2 separate regions of the Homo sapiens genome follow, and region 1 is linked to region 2. Evidence: fine-mapped expression QTL. A gene starts in region 2. The other region holds a variant in brackets. All regions are shown on one strand. Distances are between the middles of the regions.

Region 1 (4,393 bases), 37 kb after region 2:
CAGGATCATGGCTCACTGCAGCCTCAAATGCCTGGGCTCAAGTGATTCTCCCACTTCAGCTTCCTGAGTAGCTGAGATTACAGGCACGGGCCATCACGCCTGGCTAATTTTTATTTTTGTAGAGACAGGTCTCACTATGTTGCCCAGGCTGGTCTTGAACTCCTGGACTCCAGTGATCCTCCTGCCTCGGTGTCCCAAAGCGCTATGAGCCACCACACGCCACCAGCACTTCATTTATTGACTGAAATTTAGGAATTTGTTGTTGAAAACCACCCATATCTCTGTAAAGTTTTAAAACATGATTACAAAGTATAGTGTTTGGAAAAGAATAAAAGAATCTTGGGCTCTAGACAAAAAGTCTAGATTCTAGTCTGTGTTGGCACCAACAAGGTATTCTTCAGAGTCTGGAGCCATTTCCCTCCCGGTAATATAAGACATTGACTTTTTTTTTTTTTTTTTTTTTTTTTTGAGACAGGGTCTTGCTTACTTCCCCAGTCTGGAATACAGTGGTGTGAACACAGCTCACTTAGCCTCGACTTCCAGGATTCAAGTGATCCTCCCACCTCAGTCTCTTGAGTAGCTGGGACTACAGCGCATGTCACCAGGCTTGGCTAATTTTTTGATTTTTTGTAGACAAAGGGTCTCACTATGTTGCCCAGGCTGGTCTTGAACTCCTGGGCTCAAGTGATCTGTCTGCCTCAGGCTCCCAAAGTGCTGGGATTACAAGTGTGGGTCACTGTGCTCAGCTGAACTGCTTTAAGGCTATATTTGGACTTTGAAGTCAAATGAAAATGTATATGAAGCCATGTGAATATATGAAACAGATCAAAGCTATTTACTATGGACAGAGCCCAGGGCCTCTGAGGCAACACTGAAGAACCTCCAGTGCTCTACAGAACATTCTGGAAATCCCTACACTAGATGAGCTCTTCCCGTTCTGACATCACATCACTTTCATAATAACAACCAAAAAAGTAAATTTGGTCAGGTTGAAATCCATCCAAATTCATCTTCTACTTTTTTTTTTTTTTGGCTTGGACAACAGCAAAGACGTGAGGAACTATACTGGTCCTTTGTGTTAATGCTTGTACTAGTAAAATATTTAGGTTTTAATCATGGCTGGTTTGGTGTGCTTCATTCATTCATTCAACTGTGCTAAAAACTGGGGCTATGAAGACAAGTGTGGTCTCAAACTGCTAGTCTCCTGGGGAAAAGAGGTAAACAAGCATAACACAGTATTACAGCAGTTAATGGTATCAGCAGACTCCTGGCACAGTGGGAGCAACTCAATTCTGCAGGAGGAGGGAAGGTAGAGGGATAGGAAAAGATTCACATAAATAGCAATGCTATTGACCGAGCACTTAAAATGCATCAGGCAGTGTTCTTAATCTTTTATGTAATCATTTTAGAGATGAGAACATTCAGATAAAAGATGGTTAAATAACCTGCCTACAGATTTTAAAAAAAATGATGGAGGCAAGATTTACAACCAGGACATACGACTTTAAGGCCCTACTCTTAATCACTACACCATTCTGCCTTTATATTGACAGACATGGTAGCAGTTAAGCTGAATCTTGAAGAGGTTCATATAATCAGATGACAGGGTAGAAGTCAGCAGAGAGGAGAGGAAGCAGCATGAATGAAAGGGAACAGAGGTACAAGACAGCATGGCACACGGGGAGTTTGAAGTTGTTAGGCCAGCTGGAACACAGGGTGGAGGAGAG[T/A]CTGTGGGCAGGAAAACAGGTTAGAGGCGCTACGCTTCCCTCCCCCTTTGGCAAGATCCCCATCTTTGTCTCTGCAATAACAGACCAAAAAGAAGTCTTAGAAAATGGAGTAGACGGAAGAGATGGAATAACTGGATTCCATCTCAGAATGCCATTGACCTTGGAGTCTCTCTGATCTTAGGGGATAATGGGTAAATAAAATGTATGAATTCTGCCTGAGGGCTGAAAAAAAATAGAAATAAAATAAAATGTGTGAAAGTTCCTACTGTTGACTAGATAAACGTTGGCTGAATCTGAATGTGTGGCAGATATTACACAAATTGGGGTCCTGGATAAAAAGCGTATATGAAGTACTCTTAAGGAAGGGAAAGGATAAGAACCAGACTGCAAAAATCACTTCAGTTCCTGCGCATGATGAAAGGTTTAAGTGGCTGCCTTATAAAAACTGCAGTGCTTGCTGTTAGAATAAATGAGCTGCACGAGATATCCTTAAATCAATGTAAAGTAGCTGTGGTTTGTAGTTTCTGCTGCCTGGCCAAACCAGTACCTTAACTACTCCCCTTGGCTTTGTGAGTATTGTCACTGTATAATTTCAAACAAAAAAAATCTCGAACAAGGTGTACAGAATGGGGACAGTACACCATCTGCCTGTGTACACGCCAAGAGGAAAATGTAGGAGCTGGTAACGATCCAGAAGTTTTTTTGTGCATACAAAATAGCATTTCATTTATATTTCCTTAGCACAGGATTCTAATTATGCTTTATATCCTCACAATGGTTAGCATAGGCTACAAATAATTATGCGGTTAATCAGATTCCCTGTTTGGCTTGAGCAAGCACAGCAGTCTGAACGATCTCAGACAATTTTAATAGGGAAAGGTGAGTTTTTTTCAGATGTGTTTCAGTGCTTATGGAGGGCCAGTGGCTTCTCACCATGGTGACAATCCGGTTGCTAGGCTGGGCAAGACCAAGTGTGGAAGAATGGTGCTCTGAACAGTTCTACTGAAACAAATGGCTGATGCCACTGGCAACTTTCTTCAAGTTCTGGTTAATTTCCCATGAAATAATTGCTTGGCACATATCTAAGCAGTTCCTTTATTCATTGTTTCTTTGTCTTGCCAATAGCAGAGTCAATCAATACTGAAACATACAGTTTGAACCAAGCATATGTGATGCCTACTGCACAATACACTGAGGTTAGTAACAAAGGGATGAAGGGGTACTTCACCTTCCAGGAGGTGAAAGGGAATACAAATTCACAGCAGACTTCCAGAGGCCCCAGGCCAAGCAGGTAGAAAGTTTCCATCCAATTAAAAAGAGGTTTTTCTTTTCTGAAGGAAAAAAGAGAGAAAAGTCTGATTTTAGATGAGTCATCCTGGTTTAGCAAACATTTCCTAGCTAAAGCTTCCCCATCTGCACTGTCTTGCTGTCAATTATTATAGCCAAGGCCAGAGTCAAGAGTATATTAAATTTCACATTTAGGGCCAAGTGCAGAGGCTCATGCCTGTAATCCCAGCACTTTGGGAGGCCAAGGCAGGTGGATCACCTGAGGTCAGGAGTTCTAGACTAACCTGGCCAACATGGAGAAACCCCATCTCTACTAAAAATACAAAAATTAGCCGACCAGGGTGGCACAGGCCTGTAATTCCAGCTACTTGGGAGGCTGAGGCAGGAGAACTGCTTTAACTGGGTTGCAGTGAGTCGATATGGCACCACTGCACTCTAGCCTGGGCGACAGAGTGAGACTCTGTCTCAAAAAATAAATAAAAATAAAAAATAAGTTTCACATTTAGAAAAAAATGATAATTATATACGTTATATTATCTCAACAATCTAAATTTACTCCACCATTGACCTATGCTGTTATTTAGCTCAAGCTGCTCAGAGAGAATTAGTTCTGCATTTGAAAGAGGTAAAGGGGTTGGGTGCTGTGACATTGGAATAAGAACATGAGAAACAATATAGAATTGAAGATTTAAAAAAAATTTTCTTTTTGAGATGGAGCGTTGCTCTGTCACCCAGACTGGAGTGCAGTGGTGCAATCTCAGCTTACTGCAACCTCCACCTCCTGGGTTCAAGCGATTCTCTTGCCTCAGCCTCCCAAGTAGCTGGGATTACAGGCGCCTGCCACCATGCCCAGCTAATTTTTGTATTTTCTATAGAGACAAGGTTTCACCAGATTTTTAAAATATTTTTTATTTTGGTAAAATATATATAACATGAAATTTGCTATTTGTTTAACCATTTTTAAGTATACAGTTTGATGGTATTAAGTAGATCAATAATATGCGCCCATCGCCACTATCCACCTTCAAAATATTTTCGTGACCCCAAACAGAAACTCTGGAACCATTAACAATAACTTCCCATCCCCCTGTTCCCTCAACCTCTAATCTACTTTCTGTCTCTATGTTTGTTTATTCTAGAATTTCCTATCAGTGGAACGATATGATATTTGTTCTATTCTCTCGTTTCTTTCACTTAGCATGTTTTCAAGATTCATTCATGTAGCATGTATTGGAACTTCATTCTTTTCTTTGGCTGAATAATCCACTATATGTATATATCACACTTTATCATGTATTTGTTGATGGACATTGGGTTGTTTCCATCTTTTAGCTAGTATGAATAATGCTACAATGAATACTGATGTACAAGTATCTGTT
Region 2 (4,393 bases):
CAAGGCCAACTGTCAACACAGGGTGACTTCAGGTCATCTGTGGCTATGCATGGCCAGCCTGCCAAGGGGACTTGACAAGAGGGAAGATCACTGCTTTCCTCTCAGGTCTGATGGAACTAGGGCAGGCCTACTCCTGTCATGTCCGAGCTATGAGACCTTGGGCAAGTACCTCTCCCTTTCTGAGTCTCAGTTTTGTCTCAGTTTTATCTTGGGATACTTATGTTTTTCTGTCTCAGGGCCCCTGTGGAAACTGAGTTGGCACACCACTCTGCTGTGCCAACATAAGCATAGTTAAGGCCAGTAACTCTGGGTGGGGTAAATATTACAATTTAAAGGGGAGGGGTTATAGGGAAGTAGAATATTTTTTTCTTTTTCTTTTTTTTTCGAGACAGGGTCTTGCTGTGTCACCCAGGCCAGAGTGCAGTGGTGCCATCACAGTTCACTGCAGCCTTGACCTCCCGGGCTCAAGCAATCCTCCCACCTCAGCCACTTGAGTAGCTGAGACCTCAGATATGTGCCATCACACCCAGCTGATTTTTTAAAATTAATTTTTTGTAGAGATAGGGTCTCATATGTTGCCCATGCTGGTCTCAAACTACTGGGTTCAAATGATCCTCCTGCCTCAGCCTTCCAAAGTACTGGGATTACAGGCATGAGCCACCATGCCGGGCTGGGAGGCGGAATTTTGTTCAGTCTAAAGATAAGCTTTTTCATAGCTCTGGCTGTAGTGGGAGGGAGCAGAGGAGTGAATGATTGTCAGTTGGGAGGGTGCAGAGTGGGCTCCTGCCCTAGGGTGGAGGTGAGGGTGGCTTAGGTGAGACAACACAGAGGCCCTGTTCAGCCCCACGTCCCCTCCCTGTGCTCCCTCCTCCTCTCTCCTCTCCTGCAGGCGTGGGAGGTATCATCATTCAGCAGATTTCACCAGAGGCAGTGGAGGAGGCAGGTACCTGAGCCAGAATTCAGAATGTCTTATTCTCCACTTGACTCTGCCACTAACTTGTTGTGCAACTTTGGGCCTTTCCCCAGGCCTTCATTTTCTTTTCTTTTCTTTTTCTTTTTTTTTTTTTGAGGCGGAGTCTCGCTATGTTGCCCAGGCTGGAGTGCAGTGGTGCAGCATCATCTCGGCTCACTGCAAGCTCCACCTTCTGAGTTCACGCCATTCTACTGCCTCAGCCTCCCGAGTAGCCGGGACTGCAGGCGCCCACCACCACGCCCGGCTTATTTTTTGTATTTTTAGTAGAGACAGGGTTTCACCACGTTAGCCAAGATGGTCTCGATCTCCTGACCTCGTGATCCACCCGCCTGGGCTTCCCAAAGTGCTGGGATTACAGGCGTGAGCCACTGCGCCCGGCCATTTTCTTAAATATCTAATAAAAAATATATAGCAAATGCAGTTTGTAAACTATGACAATATGACCACGCAAAAGATTATTATCTTCCAAGACTGCTGGTCCAAGGAAAGGTCAGTAATAAAGTGGAAGCATTGTAGCTTATGGAATGACTGGTTAGATTTGGGAGAAGCCTTAGCAATAATCTAGAATCTGCATAGATAATACATCTGAGGATTGGGCTTTGTGGTTTACAAAGCATTTTTTTTCCTCTTTTGATCCCAGCCGCTTGTCTGGACTGATACAAAGCATTTTTATTAGTTTGTCTTATTCAATCCTCACACCACCTCAAATTTACAGAGGATATGGATCTGGTTAACTTGTATGACTATGTAACCTCATGTCAGTCCACAGCACTGCCTGGAGGTGGGTAGAGGTGGTCCTGGGCTGGAATCCCAGCCCCAGTGGGACCTTGAGCAAGTTACTTTAGCTGTCTGCACCTAAATTTCCTCACTGGCAAAACAGGAATACTGGTGGTTCACACCTGCAATTCCAGCACTTTGGGAGGCTGAGGTGGGAGGATTGCTTGAGTCCAGAAGTTCAAAACCAGACTGGGCAACATAGCAAGACCATCTCTACAAAAATTAAATAAATAAAACATTTACAAGGGTTGTGGTGAAGATTAAATGAGATCACTCACGAAAAAGCTCAGCAGACCCTGATGTGCAGTAGGTGCTCAATAAATGTTAGCCAGCAAAAAACAAACAAAAAAAAACTCAGCTAGGAAATTGCAGTACTGGGCTTCTGACTCCAACCTCAGTGTTCCTTGCCCCACATCAAGCTGTTTCACTTCAAATCCTCTCCATTTCACAATGGAGTCACCCCAGGTTGAAGGAGTGAACTGTGCTTTGGAGGGCTGCCCTAAGCAGGCAGCAAAGAGACAGCTTGGTCTCCAGTGACCTGAAAGAATTATTTATTGCCCTGAAGTCCAGTATACCAGTTGCCAAAGGGAAAAGCTTCCTTCCAACTGGCTCAGCAAGCTGACAGAGGAAGAGTCGGGTTCTTGCTGGGGCAGTCATGCAGAGCTGGGATGACAAGTAGAAGGCTGGCAGATCTGTCTCTGGGCAGATGGATCACCTGATACAGATGCTGGGGCCTGAGCCCTGGGATTGGCCCAAAACAGGGCTGTGTTGACCCAACAGCTGGGCATTGGCATCCTGTCAATCTGCCGAGAGCCTAGAAATAGTGCGGGGGCAGTCTGCTGGTCTCATTGTGTCAGAGGAAGCAACCATGCAGGTGCTAACCAAGCGTTACCCCAAGAACTGCCTGCTGACCGTCATGGACCGGTATGCAGCCGAGGTGCACAACATGGAGCAGGTGGTGATGATCCCCAGCCTTCTGCGGGACGTGCAGCTGAGTGGGCCTGGGGGCCAGGCCCAGGCTGAGGCCCCTGATCTCTACACCTACTTCACCATGCTCAAGGCCATCTGTGTGGATGTGGACCATGGGCTGCTGCCGCGGGAGGAGTGGCAGGCCAAGGTGGCAGGCAGCGAAGAGAATGGAACCGCAGAGACAGAGGAAGTCGAGGACGAGAGTGCCTCAGGAGAGCTGGACCTGGAAGCCCAGTTCCACCTGCACTTCTCCAGCCTCCATCACATCCTCATGCACCTCACCGAGAAAGCCCAGGAGGTGACAAGGAAATACCAGGAAATGACGGGACAAGTTTGGTAGACCTTGGACACTAGGGAAGGTAATGGTGGCCATGCTGGTGGGTGTGAGTCTACAAAGGGACATTCCAGGAGAGGAGAGGGGGCAGTGGTGCAACCCACTGGGAGAGGAACAGCCTGACTTTCAGACAGAGCCACTCTTGGGTCAGGGTATTGGGACCACAACCTAGGAGGGCCTAAGACTAGGCCTGTGTTACTATCCTTCTGACCTCAAATTGGCAATTGCAATGAAGTGATATGGAAACAGAGGGAAAAGTGGCCTGTGAGGGCATATCTCATATGCACATATATGTGTTTGTGCATGTGTGCATTTATTAGTATGTGAATGCTTGTAAATGTGTGAATTGAATGAGTGTGTTCTCATCAGTGACTTTGTTAAGAATTTAATTGAAGAGGGGCCAGGCGCGGTGGCTCACACCAAAGCACTTTGGGAGGCCGAGGCGGGCGGATCATGAGGCCAGGAGATTGAGACCATCCTGGCTAACATGGTGAAACCCAATCTCTACTAAAAATACAAAAAATTAGCTGGGCGTGGTGGTGGGTGCCTGTAGTCCCAGCTACTCGGGAGGCTGAGGCAGGAGAATGGCATGAACCTGGGAGGCAGAGGTTGCAGTGAGCTGAGATTGTGCCACTGCACTCCAGCCTAGGTGACAGAGGGAGACTCCATCTCAAAAAAAAAAAAAAAACTTACCTAAGGCATGCACATTGATTTAAGTGAACATTGTGAATTCCATTTGTGTGACAGTGTTTCCCAACATTTTTTCAAGTCACAGAACATGGAAAATTATTATATGGCACATGGGGATACATAGGTGAGGCTGCTTGCAGTACTGCTACAACAGGCTGGGGGTACTCTGACCATCCCAGGTTGGAACCCACCAAACGGGAAGCCGAGGGACCAGTCATGGCACTCTAATCCATTCCAGGCAAACTGGAGTATGCAGACATGCCTGTTGGGAAGCCCTGTTGTATGTACATATGAATATGTGTTCCAGTCTAAGCCTACATGTCTATGCACAGAGGGGCTGGGGTGGTGAGTGTGGATGAGCAGCAAGCTAGACAAGCAGGTGGTGGCAGAGGGTAGGAGGTGGGAAGGGGCCCTAGCATGGTCACCACTAGTTCACTCATGGATAAAGACTAGTATTAATAGAAATTGGACCACAGCACCTGCCAGTTTTGATTCTGTGCCACCTGCCAGCCCTGCTCCCACAAACTGGTCTCATTAGTTGTAAACAACATCCACGTCCATTGCAATCTCAAAACCACCTGATGCAGCTATGTAGGAAAAGATTCTCATCCCCAGTTTACTAGTATGGAAATTGAAGCCAGAGAGGTGAA

Which allele goes with the higher level. Alleles are on the strand shown, and positions count from the first base shown. SD is a standard deviation of normalised expression in the study named.
With allele A in place of T in region 1, the expression in kidney cortex of the gene that starts at base 2,598 in region 2 is higher (large effect, 0.91 SD a copy in GTEx).

What was found. PIP is the estimated chance that this variant, and not a neighbour inherited with it, causes the effect. A credible set is the group of variants that fine-mapping cannot tell apart.
Region 1: its variant is the best candidate, but not a certain one, in a credible set for the expression of THRSP in kidney cortex (GTEx, PIP 0.54).

What each region holds. Positions count from the first base shown.
Region 1 is chr11:78,098,138-78,102,530 of GRCh38, forward strand. ALG8 (ALG8 alpha-1,3-glucosyltransferase) reads right to left here. Exons shown (of 13, transcript NM_024079.5): 13 at 2,809-3,058. The coding sequence ends at 2,827. Among named protein-coding and RNA genes, the nearest start is that of NDUFC2-KCTD14, 20 kb to the left of the region's middle. The variant T/A (reference allele first, on the strand shown) is at 1,728.
Region 2 is chr11:78,061,264-78,065,656 of GRCh38, forward strand. THRSP (thyroid hormone responsive) reads left to right here and starts at 2,598. Exons shown (of 2, transcript NM_003251.4): 1 at 2,598-3,078. The coding sequence starts at 2,619. The coding sequence ends at 3,059. All of the region lies in intron 1 of NDUFC2-KCTD14 (NDUFC2-KCTD14 readthrough), which reads right to left.